Linked DNA regions of Homo sapiens: region 2 is linked to region 1. The links come from fine-mapping of genetic effects on gene expression. A gene starts in region 1. The other region holds a variant in brackets. All regions are shown on one strand. Distances are from middle to middle.

Evidence for each region. PIP is the estimated chance that this variant, and not a neighbour inherited with it, causes the effect. A credible set is the group of variants that fine-mapping cannot tell apart.
Region 2: its variant is the best candidate, but not a certain one, in a credible set for the expression of HEXIM1 in whole blood (TOPMed, PIP 0.71).

What each region holds. Positions count from the first base shown.
Region 1 is chr17:45,145,443-45,150,675 of GRCh38, reverse strand. It overlaps HEXIM1 (HEXIM P-TEFb complex subunit 1), which reads right to left and starts at 2,201. Exons shown (of 1, transcript NM_006460.3): 1 at 1-2,201. The coding sequence starts at 1,485. The coding sequence ends at 406. HEXIM2-AS1 (HEXIM2 antisense RNA 1) reads left to right here. Exons shown (of 3, transcript NR_186789.1): 3 at 1-1,014. RefSeq lists enhancers at 813-872, 543-1,098, 1,503-1,612, 1,663-1,712, 1,763-1,812 and 2 more.
Region 2 is chr17:44,589,410-44,594,642 of GRCh38, reverse strand. No RefSeq gene overlaps it. Among named protein-coding and RNA genes, the nearest start is that of FZD2, 35 kb to the right of the region's middle. The variant C/T (reference allele first, on the strand shown) is at 2,817.

The DNA of each region.
Region 1 (5,233 bases):
TCTAGAAATCACACTGAAACTATGTTACATTTACAAATATTAAATTTATTATAACTAAAATGAATTTAATTGTTCTCAGATTTGGCCACCTTATAGCTCCGTTTAAGGAGGGGATTTGTTAAAAACAAAAATGCATTATAACTTGGTCAAATTACTTTCACATTAAGGAAAAAAACTTCTAAAAAGGAAAACAAGAAAAGCAACTCTTCAGTTTCACATAATTAAAAGAACAGGAGAAAGCACGCAAGCTACATATAGCTAAATTTACGAAACCAAAGCCAGGGGGATTTCTCTTCTGATTATGTGTCATAAAAAGGTCCACTGTCTTATATACACATGTATATAATGTTACATTCCATCACTGTAAAAAGTCCCCTTTGCCCCCTCCCCCAAAAAAGTTTCAGTCTAGTCTCCAAACTTGGAAAGCGGCGCTCGCTCCTGCTGCCGGTGCAGTTCGTTCTCGGTCAGCAGCTGGAGGTTCTCGGCGCGCAGCCGGTCCAGCTCCAGCTCCAGCTCCCGCACACGCGCGTCGTCGCCACCCAGCCGCTTGCTCTCCAGCCGCAGCCGGTTGTTCTCGTCCTCCATGCGCGAGAGGCACTTCTCCAGTTCCAGGTACTCCTTGATGAGCTCCTGCTTGCTCATGTTCTGCAGGCTCTCCGTGTGGTACCGCTCGTACGTCTCCGAGAAGTCCCGCTGCAGAAACTCGCTGCCGTCCCCTCCCATCCCATCGCTGCCCCCATCCTCCTCACCCCCTTCTTCCATGAAGTCGTCATCGCTGGTGTCGTCGGATTTGGCGGCGGCCCGCTTGGAGTACAGGCCGGTTTTGAGATCCGGCTCCTCCTGGTCGTGATCATCCATGAGGAACTGCGTGGTGTTATAGGGCGCGACCGGCTGGCCCTTGGCGAACATCTCGGCTCGGATCCTTGAAGCTCGAAGGCTCTGTTTCTCGTCGAACTTTTTCTTCTCTTCCCAGGTCAGCTTGTAGTACGGTTTCCAATGCCGCTTCTTCTTGGACGGGCGTCTCCTATGTTTTTTCTTCCCCAGCTGTCTCTGCTGCTGTCCCCACTCCTCTTCGCCCCCTGCGGCAGGAGCCCCCAACTTACTGGCCTCGGAGTCATGACAAGGCTGGGCGAGCAGCTCGGCCTCGGGCGTCGGTTCCACTTCTGCCGGCGGCGGGAAGTCGCCGCCAGCGGACGAGTCGTCCCCATTCTGGCCCTTCTCGCCCTCTCTCAGGCAGCTAGATTCTGGACAGGCCTGGGTCTGCAAGGGAGGTGGTTGGGATTCCAGGCTCCCTTCCCCCTCCGGCCCCGGACGGCCACCCAACTGGGGGAACGCTCTCGATTGCCACCTACTGTCCTCCTCGGGCACCCGCTCCTCCGCGCCTGGGGGGCGCTCAGGGTTCAGCTCTTCCTGGACAGCAGCAGCACCTGTACAGTTGCTAGTTTGAGGCTGGTGTTGATATTCTGACAAGAATGGCTCGGCCATGGCTAGTAGAGTCCTCGAAGTTTAAGAAATTTTGGCTAGTAAGTCCTTAAGGAAAAAAATGGGTTTTTCTTAAAAAAAAGAAAAAGAAAAAAAAAACAGTCCAACAGAGTCCTCTTCAGTTTGTAATTCCTGCAGTGACGCCTTTAGCTAGTCCTTCTATCAGCAAACTCCAACTGCAATCTGGGGAGCTCAAGTCAGTAAAGGGTTAAGCGCCCACAGTGCGGCCAGCTAGCGGGTCCAAGGGGGTGCAGCGGCAGGAACAGTACGTAATGGGCGGAGGTGGGCCTCAAACCTCCAAGCGGAGCACCCCAATAAAGGAGTTGGTGAGCAAGGTGATGAGGGTAAGTCCAGTGCGTGAAACCCAGCCCCGAAGGGGTTAAAACTACCGATGACGCTGCCTCCGAGGGGCCAGATCCACAAAGGGTTAAATCCCCTGCCGCAGAGCCCACAAGGGGTTAAAGTCCCGGCGCCACCTCCTCCCACTTCCACGGGTGTCGCTTCCACCCAAGCTCCCAGTTCCCTAGGCCCGGCCGTAGCCTCAGCAGAGGACAGACAAACTCATCTCCCCTTTGGCTCGATGCTCTGCTCTGCTCAGTTCTCCTCCGCCTCCTCCTCTTTTCCTCCCTCCCTCCTCCCCCTTCCCACAGCTCCTCTTCCGCGTCCTCCCCCGACTTTCCCTCCCAACCTGCCTCTCCACCTGCCAACTTCCAACTGCTGTCTCCCAGTCCTCTGCGCCCCTTTTATATAGAAGCTTTTTCGCCCCGCCCGTGCGCATGCGTAACGGAGTTCCCTTTGCGGGGCGCCGGGAGTCGTAGTTCTTATCTTTCGGGCCCGCCGCCCTCGCGCGCCGTGCGACGTAGCCAATCCCAGGACGCGTAGGGGGCGTCTCCCTGGCCGCCACCTTCCATCGCTTAGACCTCGCTAAAGAAACGCGAGCGGCCATTGGTGAAAAATCACACGACTCGCTGAGGAAGGACGGCCAATCGCAGAGAAGATGGGGCGGGTTCTGGACCGTACCATTCTGTTTCAGGAATACGAGAAGATTCGATGGCCTATGAGAGTCCTCACAGAATATTTTTATGAAAAGGTGCGTTATAAAGGCTATTATCGTATTTTGTTCTCAGCGGAGGGGTTCCGAAGGTTATGAACCTTTATTAACTAACGCAAGAATGGTTTATTCCTAAAAAGTAGTCCCTAAAATGTAAAAGAATTAAATCCTATAAAGAGAGACGTCGGCCCACGGCTGCTAACTCGCGAGTCTTAAGATTATAGAAATGGCTTCAAGGCGGGTGGTGAGTGCCTGAGACTGACACTTGCGGAAGGATATCGCGAGCACATTTTGTAAAGACCGAAGAGCGCATGAAGAAGTAAACAAATGAAGAATAAAAAGTGCCGCCTTAAAGGGACAGTGTGACTGCGTTTAGCGCCGCAGGCTCGCACTAGGCCTCGGAAGACGAAGAGGCGGGTTCGAGTCCCGGTGACGCGACTCCCGGACTGACCTCGGTACCCTTAGCTGAAGGTGGCGGAGTCCCAGCCCCAGCCTGGTCTCAGAAAGCCGCCCCCGCCCCAGGGGCAAATGCAAACTGGTGATTCGCGACCAAGGCTCTTCCCTGGGCCGAGATCGGAAAGCCGGGGCCGGGGGCGGGCGGGGGAGTGGAGGGGGAAGCGGGGGAAGGCCACGCCCCCACGCCTCAGCTTCTGTCGAAGAAAATGGCCTCCTGGGGCCGATTTGGTCTTTTCACTTCCGACCGAGATCATTTCCTGAGCCGGGACAGAGGAGGTCCGGGACAGCCATGAGGCTGTTTGTTGGGAAGAGTTCGGAATGATTAATGAGTTGAAATCATCAGCCCTGGCTATCCGAGAGGGAAGCAGGTCTCACCCGCAGAGGCCCTTCCTCATCAGTGGGCGCTGGGCAAGACTGGGAGGGAAGCATGGAGGAGGCCTTGCTCCGAAACTTGCTGCAGGGGATTCTGGCGCAGGGCTGGGGGGGCCGATTCCCCCGGGGGCGTAGTTTCTCAGAGAGAAATTCTCTAGACCCAAGCCCCCAGCCCTCCATAAACAGGGACTGAGAGGACCCAGAGAACCCTCCATACCAGTCACTGAGGCCTAAAATCTTGGCGCCCTTTCCACTTCTCCTTCGCCACACACCCAGTGACCCTTTCTTCTTATTGCTTCCTTAATAGCATCCCTGACATTCCAGCACGTTTGCACTGTGTACCTTTTACGCACAGAGCCATGTGACCTCACCACAGCCTGGCAAGTTAGACACGATAGGAATGAGTGTCTCCATTTTACAGATAAGGCATCTCTAAGACACTGGAAAATAAGTGACTTGTCCAAGGTCACATGACAACCATGGGGCAGTTCTGGCTAGAGCGCTGGTCTTTGTGACCCCCCCCGTGCCATTTTTCTTTCTGTCACAAACACAAAACCCATTTTTTCTTAAAATCGGGGAATACTCTGGATTTCGTTCTTTTTATTCCCAACAACTTCAACCTTATTCAGCCCCTATATCACTTGGCAAACAGGAGGGTACAAAGAGGGGTGGGATGCCATTCTTGCCTTCAAGTTGCTCCTGGACTGTGGAGAGGCCATCAGACCACAGCCAGCCTAAATGGCAAGTGAGGGAAATCCTGGTGGGAGCTGATGAGCCGAGTGCATGGGAGCTGGGAATTATGGACAAGTGTCAGGAGCAAGTGACTTCCTGGCTGGCTCTGAAGGATGAAGAGCTTTCAGGCAAAGTGGCACGAAGAGGGGCATTTTAGGAAGCCCAAGCATCATGTGCCAGGAAAGGGCTAGTCTGGGACTTCGGTGGCTCTGGGCAGTGTGAGATATCGGGGGTGGGGGCCAGTGGTGATGGGCATGGCCAATGTAGATGCCTCTAAGGGGAGCCGCAAGCACGCGGGCCTCTGGGCACAGCTATATGTTCTGAAAATGAACACCTTCATTTGTTTTCTCTGGGCTTCCAAGAATTCGGGTCCACCTGAAAAGTTCGCCACTCCGTGTGGCTTCATCCCTTAGGAGGCTTCCTGAGAGCAAGAACTGCCCCTCAGAGCACTCCTGGAGGAAAAAGGGATTTTGCAGATAACTTGGTTATCACAGAGAGTTATCACAGAGACCTCCAAATTGTTACCCCATCTTCAGACTCCAGAGGATTCTGGGGTACCCCCAGTCAGGGCATTTGGAAGGCACTGCTGAGCCTAGCCTCAGTGTCCTGGACTGGGCTCCACTGTATGGTCTCGTGTTCTATTGGGGGAGAGGTGGACTGACGAATAGGTTGTGGAATTCTAGAATTCTGTCAAGGGGCCAGGCAACCTTACTGTTAGCTGGGTTCTAACCCTTTGCCAGGCATTTAACATGCCCCATCACTGGTAAACCCCAGGACTGCCTTATGAAAAAGAGATCAACTCTATTTCACAAAAGAGGCCACCCAAGGCCAGAGCAGTTAAGAATCTTCCCCAAGGGGGCCGGGCGCGGTGGCTCACGCCTGTAATCCTAGCACTTTGGGAGGCCGAGGTGGGCGGATCACGAGGTCAGGAGATCGAGACCATCCTGGCTAACATGGTGAAACCCCATCTCTACTAAAAATACAAAAAATTAGCCGGGCGTGGTGGCCCCCGCCTGTAGTCCCAGCTACTTCCGGGAGGCTGAGGCAGGAGAATCGCTTGAATCTGGGAGGCGGAGGTTGCAATGAGCCGAGATCGCGCCACTGCACTCCAGCCTGACAACAAAGCGAGACTCGGTCTCA
Region 2 (5,233 bases), 560 kb after region 1:
CTGTAATCCCAGTTACTCGGGAAGCTGAGGCAGGAGAATCACTTGAACCCAGAAGGTGGAGGTTGCAGTGAGCTGAGATCGCGCCATTGTACTCCAGCCTGGGCAACAGAGAGAGACTTTGTCTCAAAAAAAAAAAAAAAAGGTGGCCACTGGTACACCAGGAGTTCCCTTTGTCTGGGGACATTGACAAAGCAAGGGGGCAAGAAGGGCATAGCCCAGGAAGATGATAGGAGTAAAAATCAGAGGCAGATGAGGTGGTAGGGGGAGGGTAGAAAGGTTGAGGGGAGTCCGGAGACCCCCTCTGACTCCTAGGAACGTTCGGGAAAGTGAACGTCAGTCCAGAAGGAGTCTGTCCCTGTAGATCATGGTTGTAAGCTTTTTGTAAGCCAGGTTGTAACCTGGCCCTGTTACACATACACATCCTCATCCCTTCCTCGCTCTCTCTCCCTCCTTCTTTCCCTGTGTCTCTTTCCTTCATTCGTTCTTGTTCTAGACAATGGCTGAGACCTAGAGTTGGCTTCTTCATCTACCGGTTTTTCCTGGGGAGACTCCTAGGAGCTCTACCTCCACCCAAACCATGAGCCGCACCTCCTCACTGTCAGCCCCATCTGCCTCAACTTGAACAGAGCATCCCCTCTTCTCTGTGTGTTCCCCTGTGCTAGGCACTGAGGAACAAGTTGCAGGAAGGAAGGGACCTGCTGGAACCTGCAAACTCAGAGGCAAAAAGGTGCAGATTCCAGAGCCAAATGGAAATTCCAATAGCCCAAGTAGGCATCCAGCTAATCAGAGTGAAAGAAGAGGAAGAAAAGGCCCTTCTGAAGGAGGGGCATGCAGGTGAAGGAGCTGGGACCTGGCCCAGGCATAGAGGGCTAAGCTGATGCTGGAGATGGAGAGCTGTTTGCTTGGAGTGAGCTCATAGGTTCTAAGATGAGGGCTGGGATGGGAGGGCAGGGGGTGGCATGGCCTTGACCCCTGGGAGCCCAGACTAAAATGTCTGGCATACAATTGAAGGGAATAGAAGCTCCTCTCTGGGGCCTTGGGCAGGGAAGAAGGCAGCCTCCCTTTCTGTGCACCTATGCCCCAGGTAGAGGCAGGCATGGGGGAGATAGTATCCTGGGGGCAGTTGTCATGGAAATTGTCCCTCTACCCGCCTAACCTGGTGTCTCTGAAACCCAAGGGCCTCCAAAGCCCCTCCTGCCCCACCCCATGCAGCCAGTGACAACAGAACCATCTCTGAAATAAACACCATATAAGAACAGCAATCCCCAGAAACTCCAAAGGGGCTTTGATGTTGGGGCCAAGGATTTCGACTAAACAAGCTGGAAGCGATTTAGGCCAGGAAGGCTGCAGCGGTGCTGTAGCAGCTGCCCTGGGGAACTGAGTCAGATCGCCAGAAGCAGGGAGGGTCGCTACCCCCACCCTACCCTCCCCAACCCACCACTCTGGGCTCTCAGAGACCCATCTGGAGAGGCAAGGGCATGGGTAACTCCGTCGTGATTCTTCCTCCTGCCAGGGGGACTGGACCATCTGAGGACACCGTGTCTCCCAGCCAATGCCAGGCTACGAAGCAGATGAGTGGGCAAGCAGGCCACTGCTGTGTCCTCTCCTCCCCTCCACTCTCAAGCCCCCAGAACACAAATCTATCCCCCTCCATGTCTGCCATGCCTTCTCCTCCCTATCCAGTCCTCACTGGAAATTTCTTTATGAGGAACAGCTAATCTGGGGAGTAAATCTTGCCCCAGTCCAAAAAGTCCTCAGCCCCATAACAGCCACCGCTGCACTGGCACTGGGAATGGTCTGCCCCAACTAAAGAGTGAGAAGAACTTCAACCTCTTTCCTTCCTTCCTTTTTTCCTTCCTTCCTTTCCTTCCTTCTTTCCTTCCGTCCCTCCTTCCTTCCTTCTTCCCTCCCTACCTCCCTGTGTCCTCTGTCTTTTTTCCTCTCTCTCTCTTTTGCTCTCTCACCCTATCGCCCAGGCTGGAGTAGTGCGATCATGGCTCACTGCAGCCTCAACCTCCCAGGCTCAAATGATCCTCCCACCTCAGCCTCCCGAGTAGCTGGGACTGCAGGTGTACACCATCATGTCCTGCTAATTTTTAATTTTTTTTTAGAGATTTGGTCTCGCTATGTTGTCCAGGCTGGAGAACTTCAATGTTTGAAGCATCGATTCCCTCCCTAGAGAGTGGATTCTGTGAGGGCAGGGACTATGTCTCGTTCACCTCTGTGTCCCTCATATCTAGCGTAGTGCCTGAGCAGATAGGTATTCAATACATGGGGGCCAGGCACAGTGGCTCACACCTGTAATCCCAGCACTTTGGGAGGCCAAGGCAGTCCATTGCTTGAGCTCAGGAGTTCGAGACCAGCCTGGGCAACATGGCAAAACCTCGTCTCTACAAAAAAAAAAAAAAAAAAAAATTAGCCGGGCGTAGCGGCGCACGCATGTAGTGTCAGCTATTCAGGAGGCTGAGGTAGGAGAATTGTTTGAGCCTGGGAGGTGGAGGCTGCAGTGAGTCAAGATCATATCATTGTACTCCAGCCTGGGTAACAGAGCCAGACCCTGTCTCAAAAAAAAAAAAAAAAAAGTATTCAATACACATTTGTTGGATGAACAAATGAACTATCACCATGAAGGGTTAAAGTCCTTACTCATCTATCATAAGCCTCAGTTTCCTCTGCAAAAAGGTAATAACAAGCTTATAAGTGATTTTACACACACACACACAGATACAAAAACACATGTAAAGTACCCAGCTGGAGTCTGATGTGCTGCAGGTACACCATGGCTAGCTGTGGTTGTTGTTATGAGAAGACTACTT[C/T]CTAACTGGTCTGCATGTCATTTATAGCAAAATTCGCATTAGTGAATGTGCACGTAGGCCTTTAGAAGAAAGGGGCTTGATTCTTCTTCCAGGGTAGAGATTCAGGCAGGAAGGCAATAGGAGCCCCTCCCCTGCCCAACCTTCAGGGGTAGAGGCAGCTAAACCGTTGTGGAAGCGCGTGTTGCCTTTTTCCATCAGAGAGATGGGGGGAAACTGGGGCCTTGTCTGTACCTCCTAAAAGAGCCCCTCTGCCCTGCAGGTCCCCTTCACCCTTGGCTGTCTGCTCTCAAGGCACTCTGGCTGCTTTCTACCCCTCATGTTATCTCCCCGAAGGCCATCTGCCTTCCTTCCTTTTTAAAAAAAAATCTTAATTATTGTATTACATTTAATCACCAAGTCGTGAGTAATAAGATCCTGAAAGGACTGGTGGGGACTCTCCAAGCCAGACTGAATCTCACAAAGGAAAAAAAATTAAACAAAACAAGGGAGCCACTCACAGAGCCCCAGACACACACTTACATACTTTCTCACACATACACATACACGCGGAGTCTTAAACACTAAAGATGTACAAGGAGCACAGGTACCAAACACACATGCACACACTAGACACAATACACAAACACACATGAACACACTAGACACAATACACACAAACACATGCACACAGTAGACACGATACACACAAACACACATGCACACACTAGACACAATACACAAACACACATGAACACACTAGACACAATACAAACACACATGAACACTAGACACAATACACACACTAGACACAATACAAACACATGTGAACACACTAGACACAATACACACAAACACATGCACACACTAGACACAATACACACAAACACACATGCACACACTAGACACAATACACAAACACATGCACACACTAGACACAATACATACAAACACACATGAACACACTAGACACAATACACACACATGCACACTAGACACAATACACACACATGCACACACTAGACAATACACAAACACACATGAACACACTAGACACAATACACACACACTAGACAATACAAACACGTGAACACACTAGACACAATACACACAAACACATGCACACACTAGACACAATACACAAACACACATGAACACACTAGACACAATACACACAAACACACATGCACACTAGACACAATACAAACACACATGAACACACTAGACACAATACAAACACACATGCACACACTAGACACCATACAAACACACATGCACACACTAGACATAATACATACAAACACACATGCACACACTAGACATAATACAAACACACATGCACACACTAGACATAATACATACACACATGCACACACTAGACACGGTATACACAAACACACATGCACACACTAGACAATACACAAACACACATGAACACACTAGACACAGTACACACACACATGCACACACTAGACAATACACAAACACACATGAACACACTAGACACAACATATACAAACACATGCACACACTAGACACAATACACAAACACACATGAACACACTAGACACAATACATACAAACACACATGCACACACTAGACACAATACACACACATGCACACACTAGACACAATACACAAACACACATGAACACACTAGACACAATACATACAAACGCACATGCACACACTAGACACAATACACACATGAACACACTAGATACAATACACACAAACACACATGCACACACTAGACACAATACACTATTTCCAATACAAGTATCTGCACACACACACAGATACACATATAGCTAATAAAAAACCCCAACCAAGCAGTGTGCACTCACACACACGAACTTACAGGAGGCCTGACGACTGTATTTCAAACTTCACCTCCCAACCCAAGTCCAAAATCTGTCTCCAATTATCTGGCCCGTGTTGAGAGCAACAGGAAATCCAGAGCTGCCTCTGTCTTCTGCGGGAGATGGCGGGATTTCAGTCATCTCTCCATCGTAGAAAAACAAAAGCCTTCTGGCCTTGCCTCCCTCTCCCTGCCTCTAAGTCAGCTGGGGCTAGGAGGGTGTGGGTGGGAGGGGTAGGCAGGATAGGGGAAGAGAGGTGTCAAACCAAGCCTAGGAACAGCATGAGGAGCCTGGGAAGCCTGAGTCCTGAGCATGAGTCTTTCCGCCTTCCCTCAGAACACTGAACAGGGCACTTGTGTGGGTCAAGGATGGGGCAGACAGTGGGGACTTGGAGACTCAGTAATGACTCTAGACACCAGCCTCATAAGTGACCAAGCAGCATAGCAGAATAACCACTAGACTTACGTTCAGAAGACCTGGGCTTGGCCCCAAATCAGTGAGCCAGCTGCCAGTGATTTCATTTCTTAGAACCTCACTTAGAAAATGGGGGTGATCATAGCCACCCGCCCTACAGGGTG